Regions from separate parts of the Homo sapiens genome. Here region 2 is linked to region 1. Evidence: fine-mapped expression QTL. Tissue or cell type: whole blood. Region 1 holds a variant in brackets; the other region holds the start of a gene. All regions are shown on one strand. Distances are from middle to middle.

What was found. PIP is the estimated chance that this variant, and not a neighbour inherited with it, causes the effect.
Region 2: it holds the start of TMC5, and the variant in region 1 is fine-mapped to the expression of TMC5 in whole blood (TOPMed, PIP 0.96).

Annotation. Positions count from the first base shown.
Region 1 is chr16:19,393,987-19,402,171 of GRCh38, reverse strand. No RefSeq gene overlaps it. Among named protein-coding and RNA genes, the nearest start is that of TMC5, 20 kb to the left of the region's middle. RefSeq lists an enhancer at 7,743-8,185. The variant A/C (reference allele first, on the strand shown) is at 4,937.
Region 2 is chr16:19,414,609-19,422,793 of GRCh38, reverse strand. TMC5 (transmembrane channel like 5) reads right to left here and starts at 4,911. Exons shown (of 22, transcript NM_001261841.2): 1 at 4,702-4,911.

The DNA.
Region 1 (8,185 bases):
TGCTCTTCCACAATTTCCCTGTGGGAAAGAGAGTTTCTGGGTTGCCAGTTGAGTTGGTCTCCTCTGTGTGAGACACCCATGGGAAGCCATGGGCAGCCTCTAAGGAGAAAAGTCTCCTTATTGCCTTCATGTCTTTATGCCCTGGGAGCATAACCACTCAGCGGCATTCCACAGGTTGGTCAGGGAGATTACACTCCCTTGAAGCAATGGAGTATAATCAAACATCTTGGCTCCTCCTGAAACCCACTTCCACCTGTTTCAGTCCTGGTAAGTTAAAGATCTTAAGTAGTTTAGACACACATCTTTGCTCAAGGAAATTCACAGAAACCACCACTGCTACACATCTTATCGAATGACTCACGAGTTCTCCTTCACTGATTAATCCTGTTCCTCATCCCTTCCTCCCCCTCCCATCTGCCCTAAGAACAAAGAGCTTGTAAGCCAATAAATTGCGTGAAGCCCAAGAGCTCTGGGCCGTGAGCAAGCCTCTGATGCTCTGGTCCCCTGAACCCGCCTTTTAAATGCTTATTCTGTCTCTTTCTAACTCCTTTGTGTCTGTCAGACTTGGGGTACCCACTGGGTGGTGTGGGGCTGGTTTCCCCAACATCTGGCACCCAACGTGGGGCTCCCCATAATCTCTACAAATAATCCAGTGAAGAAACGCCAGAGCGTGGAAAGTGGAGGACGACTGACAAAGGTTGCCCGAGTACGTTTTCACTTCAGGCTCTACGGGTAAGTAGGGTGCTCGGAGAATTCCAGGGTAACCTCAGGAAAATATGGGTCAGGCTGAAAGTAAGTTTGCAAATTACTTAAGCCTGGTGCAGCAGTTATTGTGCCACAGCGGGGTAATTGTGAGTACCCAAAATCTCACATCTTTGTTCCATCTCATAGAAAAGTATTCTCCTTTGTTCCCAGGATATGGAACCATGAATGTAAAAGATTGGGACAAGGTCGGATCAGACTTACAAGGAGCAAAACAAGAGGGTTACGATATTTCCTTCTCCACTTGGTCTGTGTGGCCAGCAATTAAAACAGCACTGGAGCCCTTCTACACTGAGGAGGAGGAGTTTCAGGATGACATACAAAAGTTTAATAATCATGAGTCTGATGATCAGCAAAGTGAACCATCACAGTCTAGTTTAAAAAAGGGGGAGAAACAGGAAGCTACATGGGCTAACCTCCAAAAACTTATGAAAGAAACAGTTCCACCTACTGAAGAAACAGTGCCACCTACTGCGCCTTTAGGGGAAGGTCCGGAACGGCCACCCCTGCCTCAGCCTTATGAATTTTTGTAACGAGAGCCTGAGACGCAGCTTGCCACTCCCATTGTTGCACGCCCCACCATTAACTATGGCAAAGGGAAGCTTCAGTCTTGCCCAACAGCCAATTACAGTGAGGGAATGATCCAGGTTGGTCCACCTGTTAATTATGGTAGAGGAATGCTGTGAACCGGCCCAAATACATATTATGGCGCAGGGATAATCCAGGCATCCATTTGCCAGGCATGAGAAATGGGGGATTTGGATGCTTGGCAGTTTCTGGTAATTATTTCGCCAGCTGAGGAGCCTGGAGAACATGCTCAAGCGTGCTGGGAGCCATTTCCTTTTAAAATATTAAAAGACTTAAAGCAAGCAGTTGGACAATATGGGCCAAATTCTCCTTATGTTCATTCCTTGTTACAATCTGTGGCGTATAACCAGCATTTAATACCTATGGATTGGGAGACATTAGCCTGATCCACCCTGCCCCCTCTCAATTTCTCCAATTTAAAACCTGGTGGATGGATGAAGCAATAAATCAGGCATGCAGAAATGCTCAAGCCCAAACTTTCATTAATATCACATCTGATCAATTGCTTGGAAGTGGACAGGCATGGGGTACTCTAAATCAACAGATGGTAATGGGTGATGAGGCTGTTGATCAGCTCAGAACTATATGCCTAAGAGCCTGGGAAAAAATTCACTACCCTGGTACTACTTATCCTTCTTTTAACTCAGTTTGACAGGGTCGAAGGGAGCCTTATCCAGATTTTATCATTCATTTGCAAGATGTGGCTCAAAAGGCTATTTTGGATTCTCATGCCAGGAAAGTGATCGTCCAGCTACTTGCTTATGAAAATGTTAATACAGAATGTCAGGCAGCAATTAGACCTATTAAGGGAAAGGCAGATCTAAATGAGGAAAAAACTTTAAGAGTATACATTAAAGCCTGTGATGGCATTGGCAGGCACTTATATAAGGCCAGCCTCCTTGCTCAAGGAATGGCTGGACTAAGGGTAACAAAAAACATATGAGTGTGCCCTGGATCTTGCTATAATTGTGGACAGATAGGACATACAAAAAGAGAGTGTACAAAGAGCCAAAAAAGGCAAAACTCAGGAGGAAAAAGCAGGGAACCAAGTACCTTTCCTAGAAGTAAAAAAGGAAAAGACTGTGCTAATCAATGTCATTCAAAGTTTGATGACAGCAGACAGACAGAACTTGCCAGGAAACGGACAGAAGGGCCAGCCCTGGGCCCCGATTCAAAATGGGGCATTCCCAATTCAGGATGGGATGTCCCCAACTCCAAACGGAGTGTCCTCAGCCCAGTCTATCCCTGTATGAATGTACAGGAATTGTCCCCCTCCACAGCTAAAAGTGGGGCAGTAGATTTATGCTGTACCGAAGCCATATCCCTCCTTCCTGGGGAGCCTCCTAGGAAGGTCCCAGTGGAAGTTTATGGCCCATTGTGAAATGGCACGGTGGGACTTATACTGGGAAGGTCCAGCTTAAACTTAAAGGGAATTCAAGTACATACTGGAGTAGTGGACTCTGATTGCCAGGGAGAAATTCAAATTGTTATCTCCTCCACTGTTCCCTGGAGTGCTAATCAAGGTGACAGAATAGCTCAACTGTTGCTTTTACCATATGTTAAGTTAGGAGAAAGCTCAGAAAAAAGAACAGGAGGATTTGGAACACAAATTCAGCAGGCAATGCTACCTATTGGGTACATCAAGTCTCTGACAATAGACCTATTTGTATGGTTACTATTCAAGGAAAACAATTTGAGGGTCTGGTGGACACAGAAGCAGACGTGTCGATCATAGCTCTTTATCAATGGCCAAAAAACTGGCCCAAACAAAAGGCCCCAGTAGGTCTTGTTGGGGTCAGAATTGCTTCAGAAGTTTTCCAAAGTACTTTTATCTTACCATGTCTTGGTCCAGAAGAACAGGAAGGCACACTACAACCTCTAATTATGCCCATTCTTGATAACTTATGGGGGAGAGATCTGCTTCAGCAATGGGGCACAGAAATTTCAATCCCTTCTCCCCAGTTTGGTCAAGCTAGTCAAAAAATAATGTCAAACATGGGCTATGTTCCCAGAAAAGGCCTAGGAAGACAGGGGGCTGGCATTATTGAACCCATACAAGTTACTGTAAAAAATGACTGAAAAGGATTAGGTTACCATTTTTAGGGCTGGTCACTGTTGAGTCTCCAAGTTCTATTCCCTTAAAATGGAAGACCCAAAATCCTGTTTGGGTTGAGCAGGGGCCACTTTCTCAGGAAAAATTGGGGGCCTTACAGGAATTAGTCAAAGAGCAATTAAACAAAGGAAACATTGAGCCCACATTTCCTCCATGGAATTCGCTAGTGTTTGTAATAAAGAAAAAATCCAGCAGATGGTTCATGCTAACCGACTTACGAGCGGTCAATGCAGTCATCCAGCTGATGGGGGCCCTGCAGCCAGGGCTTCCATCGCCCACCATGATTCCTAGAGACTGGCCATTAATAATTATAGATTTGAAGGATTGCTTTTTTAATATTCCTCTAGCAGAGTCCAATTTTGAGAAATTTACTTTTACTATTCCTGCTATGAACAACAAGGAACCAGCAGCCAGATATCATTGGAAAGTCTTGCCGCAGGGTAGGTTGAATAGTCCTACTATTTGTCAAACTTTTGCGGGGAAGGATGTTCAACCTGTGAGAGATCAGTTTCCCGATTCATATGTCATTCATTATATGGATGACATATTGTGTGCGGCTGAAAATCGAGACCAACTTATCCAGTGTTATTCATATTTACAGGAGGTGCTAGCCAATGCTGGATTGCTCATAGCACCAGATAAAATTCAAACGGCCACTCCTTTCCAATATTTGGAAATGCAGGTTCAGGAAAGGGCAATTAAACCCCAAAAGGTTCAAATTCGAAAAGACTCTCTGAAAACTAAATGATTTTCAAAAATTATTAGGGGATATCAGTTGAATTTGACCTACTTTGGGAATCCCTACCATGTTATGTCTAATCTGTTCTCTATTTTAAGAGGAGACCCTGCTCTCAATAGTAAATGATAACTGACTCCTGAGGCTGACAAAGAATTACAAATAATTGAAGAAAAAATACAACAGGCCCAGGTTAATAGAATAGAGTCAAGTTTACCATTACAGTTCATTGTGTTCCCTACTCTCCATTCTCCTACAGGGGTTATAGCTCAGAGTGAGGACTTAGTTGAATGGTCTTTTCTGCCTCACAATACTGTTAGAACACTCACAGTATACTTGGATCAGATGGCAATCTTGATTGAGCAAGCTTGCCTTAGAGTTGTTAAACTTTGTGGCTCAGATCCAGATAAGATTATAATTCCAATGAATAAAATCAGATTTGGCAAGCCTTTGTTAATTCGGTCAATTGGCAAATAAATTTAGCTGGCTTCATTGGAGTTCTTGACAATCATTATCCAAAAAACAAAATTTTTCAGTTTTTAAAGCTAACATGGGTCCTTCCAAAAATTACCCGTAGTGCTCCATTGGAAGGAGCAGTGACTGTGTTTACAGATGGCTCTAGTAATGGAAAAGCAGCTTACGTACGACCTAAAAACACAATTATTCAAACTGACTTTCAATCGGCACAGAAGGCTGAATTACAGGCAGTTATAGGTGTGTTCGAAAACTTTAAGCAA[A/C]CTGTAAATATTGTCTTTGATTCAGCTTATGTTGTTCAAGCCACTCAACACATAGAAACTGCACTCATTAAATATCTGGTGGATGAACAACTCTATCAGCTGTTTTCTTCTTTACAAAAGGCAGTGCATGATCACCGTTTTCCTTTCTATATTACACACATTTGAGCACACACTAATCTTCCTGGGCCCCTTGTAAGGGCTAATGATCAAGCTGATTTATTAATTTCCACTGTGCTTACTAATGTCCAAGATTTTCACTCCCTAACACGTTAATGCAGCAGGACTTAAACAAAAATAACAAATTACTTGGAGACAGGCAAAGGGCATTGTGCAACATTGCCCTCAGTGCCAGGTAGTACAACTGCCACGTGAAAGGACTGGTGTTAACCCACAGGGATTAACCCCCAATATGTTGTTGCAAAAGGACCTAACCCATGTACCTTTGTTCGGGAAACTTTCATACGTCCATGTTACTATAGATACCTTTTCTCATTTTGTATGGGCAACTTGCCAAACAGGCGAGGCGGCTGCTCATATTAAGACATTACTTCCCTGTTTCGCTGCCATGGGCATCCCACAAAAGATTAAAACAAACAATGGCCCAGGCTACTGTAGTAAATCTTTACAGGCGTTCCTTTAACAGTGGAACATCGAGCACAGTACTGGAATACCCTATAATTCTCAAGGTCAAGCCACTGTTGAACAGGCTAATCGAACCTTAAAATCTCAATTACAAAAACAAAAGACAGAGGGGGAAACCAGAGAATACGCTACTCCTTATATGCAGCTACAATTGGCTCTTATCACTTCACATTTTCTGAATTTGTCTAGAGATCACGTTACAATGGCAGCAGAGCAGCATTTGACAAGGCAAAAAATAAATGCTTATGAAGGAAAACATGTGTGGTGGAAGGACATCAGAACCAAAACCTGGGAAAAGGGCAAAATCATTACATGGGGTCAAGGGTTTTCTTGTATCTCACCAGAAGAGAATCAGCTTCCTGTCTGGGTGCCCACAAGACATCTTAAGCTGTGCCATGAGCCAGAATCCAAGGAAGAGGAAAAGACCTCGGAACATCCCTGCACCCCCAGTTCATCAGATGGCTCAGATGAACATCTCTGTTGAGCAGATGGAAACCAGTAAAACTCGCCAAGCAACTCCACTGACCTGGGGGCAGGTGAAGAGCCTAGCTCACATTGCAGAAGAGAACCTGAGGTCTCTGAACAAGCTGCTGACCACCAGTAATCTAATGGTAGCTATGATGGTGGTAATCTCCCTGCAGTGAGTCTCCCCATAGCTGAGGCAGATCAAAATTACACTTACTGGGCCTACATTCCATTCCCACCACTGATTAGGCCTGTTACATGGTTAGACCCCATGTTAATGATAGTATCTGGATGCCTGGACCAATAGATAACCGAGGCCCTACTCATCCAGAGGAGGAAGGAATGTTAATGAATGTTTCCATTGGTTATCACTTTCCTTCCATCTGCCTGGGGCCGGCAGCAGGATGTTTAAATTATGATAAACAAAGTTGGATGACTTGTGTCCCTGCAAATAATGGATCAAAAGCCCCTATTCATGCAATCAGTGGAAGAACATTTCAATCTTTGGACACTATTAAATACCTTGAGCACGGCTATGTTATGACACATCGCCAGATTAATAAATATAAACCTAATAAGAAGCCCTGCCCTAGGAAGGCCACTAAATGGTCTGGAAAGCTAGAGGTGCTAACCTGGGAAGATTGTATTGCAAACAGCACTGCTGTACTGCAAAGTAATTCCTATGGAATCGTCATTGATTGGGCCCCTATGGGACGCTTTGCAGTAAATTGTACTGGACAGTGCGAAGATGGTAGAGAGACTCCTTTTGCAAACAACTACCCAGATAATGCACCAAAATTATATAGAAGAATTAAAACAAATTAACCTATTAAGTGGGAGGAGAACGGTATGGCTCTTTCAAGCCCAAAAATGATTGATCCAATTATAAGTCCAGAACATCTAGAATTGTGGAAATTAATGATGGCTCAAACCCCAATTCGGATTTGGAAAGGAGAATATAAAACAAAGACCCTTAGTAAAAAAAACTTTGATTTGTCGTAGCCATGACCTCTAATCAGACATTCCCATTGCAGAGTTTTGTTAAACCTCCTTTTATGTTGGCAGTGGGAAAAATTAATATCCTAACTGACTCTCAAACCATATCATGCCTCAACTGTCATCTTTTTACCTGCATTAATTCTACCTTTAATAAAGATAATAGCATTTTACCGGTTAGGGCCCAAGGAGTTTGAATAACTGTTTCCCTCAATAGACCTTGGGAGGCCTCTCCCTCCATACATATTATCACGGAAGTACTAAAAGGAATACTTAATAGATCAAAGAGATTCATATTTACTTTAATAGCTGTGATCATGGGCCTTATAGCTGTCACAGCTACTGCTGCTGCTGCTGGTGTTGCTTTGCACTCTTCTATTCAAACAGCGGGCTTTGTGGATAGTTGGCAGAAAAATTCTTCTAAGCTTTGGAATTCCCAAAGCCAAATAGGTCAAAAATTGGCAAATCAAATTAATGATCTCTGTCAAACAGTAATTTGGATGGGAGATTGGATTATGAGCTTGGAGCATAGAATTCAAAAACAATGTGACTGGAATACTTCCGATTTTTGTTTTACTCCTAGCTCTTATAATGCCATTGAACACCAGTGAGAGACGATTAGACGTCACCTACAAGGAAAAAAAGATAATTTAACATTAGATATTGCTAAACTGAAAAAACAAGTTTTTGAGGCATCTCAGGCTCATCTCACCCTATTGCCTGGAGCTGATATTCTTGCTGGAGCCTCTGATGGCCTTTCTAATACCAATCCTTTAAAGTGGATTGAAACCATAGGTGGATCAACAATTGCAAATTTTATTTTGGTTTGTGTCTGTTTATGTTGCTTGTTTTTAGTCTACAGATGCAGATGGTGCCTTGGGAGAGAAACCAGACACCATGAATGAGCCATAATAGCAATGGCAGTTATTAATAAAAAAAAATCAATAGAGGCAAAAAAGGGGAACATGTGGGAAAGTGTTTCTGGGGTGCCAGTTGAGTTGGTCTCCCCTGTGTGAGACACCCATGGGAAGCCATGGGCAGCCTCTGGGGAGAAAAGTCTCCTTATTGCTTTCATGTCTTTATGCCCCAAGAGCATAACCACTCAGCAGCATTCCACAGGTTGCTCAGGGAGACAACACTCCCTTG
Region 2 (8,185 bases), 21 kb before region 1:
TTGTAGTTTTATTAGAGATGGGGTTTCACCATGTTGGCCAGGCCTGACCTCATGATCCACCCACCTCGGCCCCCCAAAGTGCTGGGATGACAGGGGTGAGCCACTGGGCCCGGCCTATTTTTAAATTTTTTTTGTAGAGACATTGTTGCACCCAGGCTGATTTCTAATGCCTGGGCTCAAGAGATCCTCCCACCTTGGCCTCCCGAAGTGCTTGGGCTACAACAGACGTGAGCCACCATACCCAGCTGCTTACAATGTTTTGAAAATAAAAAATGTGATTTCCAAATAAAAAAGATAAATTAAGTAAGTACTTAAAAATGCAAACATATGATTATGGAGGTTCTCGAGCAATCCAGGTCCCTAAGTAAACGGAGACACCTGGAAAGTGGTTTGGAAGCAGGGCATTGGAGTTTCCTTTGAAATACAGTATCCTAAATGTCCCTCTTTTCACCCCATTCAGGGAAGCAGAAAAGCAAATTCTTTCTCTCTCTCTTTTCCCCCCCTTTAAATATCTTTGAGTCATAGCAAATTCTGTCTTCTCTCTCTCTCTCTTTTTTTTTTTTGAAATGGAGTCTAGCTCTGTTGCCCGGGCTGGAGTATAGTGGTGTGATCTTGGCTCACTGCAACCTCCACCTCCCAGGTTCAAGCAATTCTCCTGCCTCAGCCTCCTGAGCAGTTGGGACTACAGGCATGTGCCACCATGCCCAGCTAATTTTTTTGTATTTTTAATAGAGACGGGGTTTCACCATGTTGGCCAGGATGGTCTTGATCTCCTGACCTCGTGATCCGCCCACCTCGGCCTTCCAAAGTACTGGGATTACAGGCGTGAGCCACCGCGCCCGGCCCTCTCTCTCTCTTTTTTAAGAGATGGAGTCTCACTCTGTTATCCAGGCCAGAGTGCAGTGATGCAACCTCCTAGGCCCAAGCCATCCTCCTGCCTCAGCCTCCTGAGTAGCTGTGACTATAGGTGTATGCCAACCACACCTGGCTCAAATTTTCTTTTTTCAACTCTGATTTGTTCCACATTCACCTCTTGAATTCTGCTACCTTTTCTCCCATGCTGGGTAAGTATGACATCAAGCTTGGGAAGTTTCTAGATTCAATGCTGTTTGCAGCAGGGCCAGGACTAGGGTGAGGGAGTAAGATAAGTGCTGAGCTGAGGTGCAAATTTAAAGGGGGCCAAAAATCCCAGTAATCAAGTGTATCGTCCATTTTCATACCTGAGACTAGGTAATTTATAAAGAAAAAGAGGTTTAATGGACTCACAGTTCCACATGGCTGGGGAGGTCTCACAATCATGGCAGAAGGCAAAGGAGGAGCAAAGGCACATCTTACATGGCGGCAGGCAAGAGCGTGTGTGCAGGGGAACTGCCCTTTATAAAACCGTCAGATCTCGTGTTCCCATGAGAACAGCATGGGAAAAACCCACCCCTATGACTCAATTACCTCCCACAGCGTCCCTCTCATGACATGTGGGGATTATGGGAGCTATAATTCAAGATGAGATTTGGGTGGGGACACACCATATCATCAAAATAAATAATATTTTAACATGATACTTTTAAAAATAAAAATAAGTGCAAAAAACCCATGATGAAAAAAAAATCAACATGTTCAAAACAGACAGGATCACAATTACTGCTTTGTGCTTTTGGCTCCAGCTCTGATCTTTCTCAGTGCCACACTGACTGACAGACACAACCTTGCGATCCAGGTGTCCATGAGTCTCATACTGCCAGGTCCTGTTATCTCACCTCAGGAATGACAATTCTTGGGGTGACCTAAACCATTTTCTTGGAGATCTCCACTCACCTCCTCTCATTTTAAGTCCTTTCCTCTGATCGTGTAATTTATAACTCAAGTCTCTGACACAGGATAAAATTCCATTTCTCCTTTGGAAAGCCACTATTTTGCTTTGGATGTGGGTGCTAACACATCAAAGGCTGGGAACTGTAACTATGGGCTTCCAATTCTTCTGGTGAATTCTAAACACAGGACTGTCTTTTTTTCTTTTAAATTATACCTATGTTCAGACAGGCGAGATGGCTCAATCCTGTAATCCTGGGGCTTTGGGAGGCTGAGGCAGGAGGATTGCTTGAAACCAGGAGTTGGAGACCAGCTTAGGTGACATAGCAAGACCCTGGCTCTACAAAAAATTTTAAAAATTAGCTGAGCACAGTGGCATGCAGCCGTTAGTCCCAGCTACCCAGGAGGCTGAGCCTGGATGATGACTTGAAACAAGGGAGTTGAGGCTGCAGTGCACTATGATCATGCCACTGCACTCCAGCCTGGGGGACAGAGTGAAACTCTGTCTCTACAGAAAATTTTAAAATTAGTTGATTTTTAATTTTTTTTATTTTTTTTTTTGAGACGGAGTCTTGCTCTGTTGCCAGGCTGGAGTGCAGTGGCATGATCTCAGCTCACTGCAACCTCCGCCACGTGGGTTCCAGTGATTCCCTTGCTTCAGCCTCTCCAGTAGCTGAGACTACAGGTGTGTGCCACCATGCCTGGCTAATTTTTTTTTGTGTTTTAGTAGAGACAGGGTTTCACCATGTTGGCCAGGATGGTCTTGATCTCCTAATCTCGTGATCTGCCCTCCTTGGCCTCCCAAAGTGCTGGGATTACAGACGTGACCCACCACACCTGGCCTAAAATTAGTTGATTTTTAATCATTAATGGTGGTGCACGCCTGTAGTCCCAGCTACTTAGGAGGCTAAGGCAGGAGGATCACTCAAGCCCAGAAGTTCAAGGCTGCAATGAGCTATGATCACACCACTACACTCCCTATAAATATTCCTTTCCCTATGAATGCCTTCGCAGAAATGACCATAACTGATGATTAGCATTCTAGCTGCTGTGATTTATCTCTGGGAATGATGAACGTTGGGTGACTAGAAATAACCTGAGCAATAATAGCGTCACCTCCTGCCACGTCATCCCGAAAAATCTTGGCAAATATGATTCATTGCGTTATTCATTAAGTGTTTATGAAGATACTCTATAGCTTGAACTTGACCCTGTCTTCTGGGGACAGGACCTTTTCTGGCAAAGTATGACAATAAACCCTACTTTTAACATTAGTGGCCCGGCGCGGTGGCTCACGCCTGTAATCCCAGCACTTTGGGAGGCCGAGGCGGATGGATCACGAGGTCAGGAGATTCAGACCATCCTGGCTAACACGGTGAAACCCCGTCTCTCCTAAAAATACAAAAAATTAGCCGGGCATGGTGGCAGGCGCCCGTAGTCCCAGCTACTCCGGAGGCTGAGGCAGGAGAATGGCGTGAACCTGGGAGGCGGAGCTTGCAATGCGCCGAGATCGCACCACTGCACTCCAGCCTGAGCGACAGAGCAAGACACTGTCTCAAAAAAAAAAAAAAAAAAAAAAAAAAAACCAACACATTCATTTCCACTGAGCTTCTTTTCCCCTCTCTAGTGTAGAAAGAATCTAGTCAAACAATAACAATAATAATAAGTTAATAATAATAACAACAACAGTAATAAGCATGAAGACAGCACTATTTATTGAGTGCTGACATGCATGCCAGGCACAGGGCTATGCCCTTCACATGTATCAGCAACTGAATGCTCAAACAACTTTATGGGGAGGTATTATTATCCCCATTTTATGATTACATTGAGACCCAGAGAGGTTAAGTAACTCACTCAAGGTCACACAGCTAAACAGAGGCAGAATGGGATTCAAACCCATACCTCTCTGATTGCATACGCTGGGCTTGGATCATCATCATCAACAACATCATTGTTGGCAGTGCATGGTGGCTCATGCCTGTAATGCCAGCACTTTGGCAGGCTGAGGCAGAAGGATCGCTTGAGCTTAGGAGTTTGAGACCATCCTAGGCAATATAGTCAGACCTTGTCTCTACTAAAAATCATAAAAGGTAGGCGGGCATGGTGGCATGTGCCTATAGTCTCAGCTACTCAGAAGGCTGAAGCAGGAGGATTGCTTGAGCCCAGGAGATCAAGGCTGCAGTGAGCTATGATTTCACCACTGTACTCCAGCCTGGGCAACAGAGTGAGATATTGTCTCGAAAAAAAAAAAAAAAAACACAAAAATCACTTATCAGAGGAAGAAGAGAAGGATGAGAAAAATGAGAAGGATGAGAAGAATGAGAAAAATGAGAAGTTATTGTTTCTTGAACACCATAAAGAAGTAAATAGATTTTTTTTTAAATCTCAGAAAATGAAATACCATTGGGAGAGACCACCTGAATTCACTCATCCAACAAAGCATTCTTCTAGAACATGATGCTCCAGGAGACACCCCCAGACATAGAGGTCACATTTATTGCGTGTTTGTCGTGCACCGTATTTTATTAGCTCTGATATCCACCTGTGGAAGTGGGAGCTTTTGGCATACTACCCATTCTACAGACAAGGAAACCAAGGCCAGAAACATACAATAACTGACCCAGAATCCCACAGTTAGACCTGGGGAAGCCCAGATTCCAACTCAAGCAGATAACCCTAGGGCTTGTTCTCATAATCAACACTCTCTTGCCTCCCATTTCCCCTGGTCATTCTTTCCTCTAACAAACATCTGTTGTGCCTCAATTCTGTACCCTCGTCTGGCAATAAGCAATACGACAGCCTCAGTTTCCGTCCTCCTTCGCTGACACGTTCCCAAGCATTCCGCATTATTCCCATGACCTCCCACCCCTCCTTCAAAGCACTTTCACTTACCTGCCCTCAGTTCTACAGGAAAATCCAGACAAACTTCCCCTCCACTTTGTAGTTCAAAGCTAGAGGGACAGGCAACAGGTCCTCTTTTTTTCTTAACTAACCGGTAAGGCCCATCTTTTTCTGCCTCTCTGCCGTGTCGCCTTAAAGACTGCTCCTTGCTATCTTGGTCACACGTCTGGGCGGGAAGCCACGAAGATCACGGGAAGGGGGTTGTTTACTGAGCTCATTGCCGTTTTATGCCGCCCTGGCTATCATCTCTTTCCTCATCAACCAATGAGTAACCAGGTCTCACCTGGTGAAAATGCAAATCAGTCTTCCACCTCTACCATCACAGCTGCACCTATGGCCTCTGTCTACTGAGTCCGCGACGATGAAGGCCTAACTCAGGTCCCAAGTTGTGCATTTCCTTCTTCCTAAGCCCTAACTCCTCCCTCTCATTAATATTCTTTTGTTATCAGCTCAATGAAAATATCAAAGTCCTTTCTAGAGGTTATTTTATTTCTTGGACACCATAAGGAAGTAAATAGATTCGTTTTGTGTTTTTTTTTTAACCCTAGAGTGTGAGGTGGTGTGGGAAGAGACTACCTGAATTCATTAATCCAACAAAGAATGGAACGTGATGCTCCACTAGACACCCCCGGGCACTGGCTCCTTTTTTTTTTTTTTTTTTTTTTGAGACAGCGTTGCCCTCTGTCACCTCGGCTGGAGTGCAGTGCCACAATCTCAGCTCACTGCAACCTCCGCCTCCTGGACTCAAGGGATCCTCCTGCCTCAGCCTCCCAAGCAGCTGGGACCACAGGTGCAAGCCATCATGCCTGACTAATTTTTGTATTTTTTGAAGAGCTGGGGTTCTGTCGTGTTGCCCAGGCTGGTCTTGAACTCCTGAGCTCAAGTGATCCACCCATCTCGGTCTCCAAAACTGCTGAGATTACAGGCGTAAGCCACTGCACCTGGCCTGGACACGTTTTTCTTTTCTTCTTTTTTTTTTTTTTTTTTTTGAAGACTGAGTCTTGCTCTGTCGCCCAGGCTGGAGTGCAATGGCGCCATCTGGGCTCACTGCAACCTCCGCCTCCCAGGTTCAAGTGATTCTCCTGCCTCAGCCTCCCGAGTAGCTGGGATTACAGGTGTCTGCCACTACACCTGGCTAATTTTTGTATTTTTAGTAGAGATGGGGTTTCACCATGTTGGCCAGGCTGGTCTTGAACTCCTGACCTCAGGTAATCCACCTGTCTCGGCCTGCCAAAATGCTGGGATTACAGGCATGAGCCACTGCATCTGGCCGCCTGGCCACATTTTTCTATAGATACATCCCCTTTGGCAACATGCGGACCATACAGGTTTAACTCTGTAGTTATGATCACCAATGGCATGTCCCTTCTGGAAACAAAGGACAGGCAGTATAAAACCAGCCCACATTTCAAGACAGTTGACTCGAATTCAAATGCTGACTCTGGCACTCTAAGACTGTAATGTCTCAACTCCTCTGAGCCTCAATTTCCTCCCCATTAACCTACAAAGTGGGAACTATATACACTCCCTCCTCCTAGTGTTGATAAGGGCTACATCAGTTAACATTTGAGAAAGTTTGGACTAAGATTATTTCTAGCCACCTAAGACTCACATTCCCAGGGATAAACCCCAGCAGATGGGATGCTAATCCATCACAAAGGGTTTTCTCTGAGAAGGAGATTTTATATTCATACAGAAATAAAGAAGGAGGTAGACAATTGAGGGCTGGATCAAATTTCTGTATTTTTACAAATACCAGAACAAACAAAATCTGTTTCCTATGGCATTTGCATTTGGGGGAGTATCATTTAAAAGAAAAAAAGAATGTCCTAGTTCTATAATTCACAGAAAGTATTGGGGTCTATAGTTACCGTTCCTCTTTTTTTTTTTTTTCCTTTGAGACAGGCTCTTGCTTTGTCAACCAAGGCTGGAATGCAGTGGTGCAATCATAGCTCACTGCAGCCTCTGACTGTTGGGCTCAAGCAATCCTCCTGCCTCACTCAGCCTCCCAAGGAGGTGAGACTACAGGTATGTACCACCACATTTGGCTAACATTTTAAATTTTTATAGATATGGGGTCTCTCTACGTTGCCCAGGCTTGTCTCAAACTACTGGGCTCAAGTGATCATCCCACCTTGGCTTCCCAAGGTGTTGGGATTACAGGCATGAGCCACTGCACCCAGCCCCAATCTTTGATGTATTAGCACTAAATGCAAAACAGTGGCTTTCCAATGGAGAAATGGAATTTTCTCCTGTGGAAGAGACCTGAGTTATAAATTGTATGATCAGAGGAAATGAGAGGAGGAGGGTGGTGGTTTCCAAGAAGACAGTTTGGTTTGCCCCAAGAGCTGTCATTACTGGGGTGAAAGGGCAGTACCTGGCAGCATTTGACTCTAGGAACACCTGGATCGTGCGGTTCTGCCTGCCAATCATTGTGGAGCTGCGCCAAACGAGCTCCTGGCAAGAAGTCAAAGCAGTGATTTTGATTCTTTTGTAGCTATAAGTCAGGATTTCTCAACCTTGGCAGTACTGTCATTTGGGGCCAGACAACTGCCTGTTGTGGGGAGCTGGGGGGACTGCTCTGTGCATTGTAGGGTGTTTAGCAGTATGTCCGGCTTCTATCTATTAGATACCAGGAGGACACCCCAACCCCACCCCATCTGCAAGCTACGACAACCAAAAATGTCTTCAGGAATGGGCAAATATCCCCTGGGAGGCAAAACTGCCTCCCCCTGAGAACCACTGCTCTAAATGTTACCTAGTTCCATGGACAGTGTCTCCTCGCTCTCCATTGCGTGGGACAAGGAAATCAGCAACTCAACATTTTCTCTAATAGAGTTTTCTCCCCTCTGTTTCTCCTCTTCTAGAAACTATACCATATTTTTACATATTTCGGTTTATGACACATATATGCCCTATAAACTGTAATTATACGTTTCTTGTCTGCAGGTAGACAATAAGTTGGCAATACTGGTTGCTTCCAGAGTGAGAAACTGGGTGGCTGGAGATAGATATGGAGGGAGATACTTTTCAGTATTTGCTTAGATATCCTTTGGATTTTTTCCATTTTTCTTTTTTAGAGATAGAGCCTTGCTTTGTCACCCAGGCTGGGCTCAAACGATCCTCTTGCCTAAGCCTCAGCCTCCTGAGCAGCTGGGACTACAGGAACTCACCACTATGCCCACCTAGTTTCTCTTTTTTGTCAAGATGGGGTCTCCCTATGTTGCCTAGGCTGGTCTCGAACTCCTGGCCTCAAGCGATCCTCCTGCCTCAGCTTCCCAAGGCTCTGGGACTACAGGAACTCACCACTATGCCCACCTAATTTCTCTTTTTTGTCGAGATCGGGGGGTGGTCTCCCTATGTTGCCTAGGCTGGTCTCGAACTCCTGATCTCAAGCGATCCTCCCGCCTCAGCCTCCCAAGGTTCTGGGATTACAAGCCACTGTGCCTGGTCTCTTTGGGGTTTTATACCACGT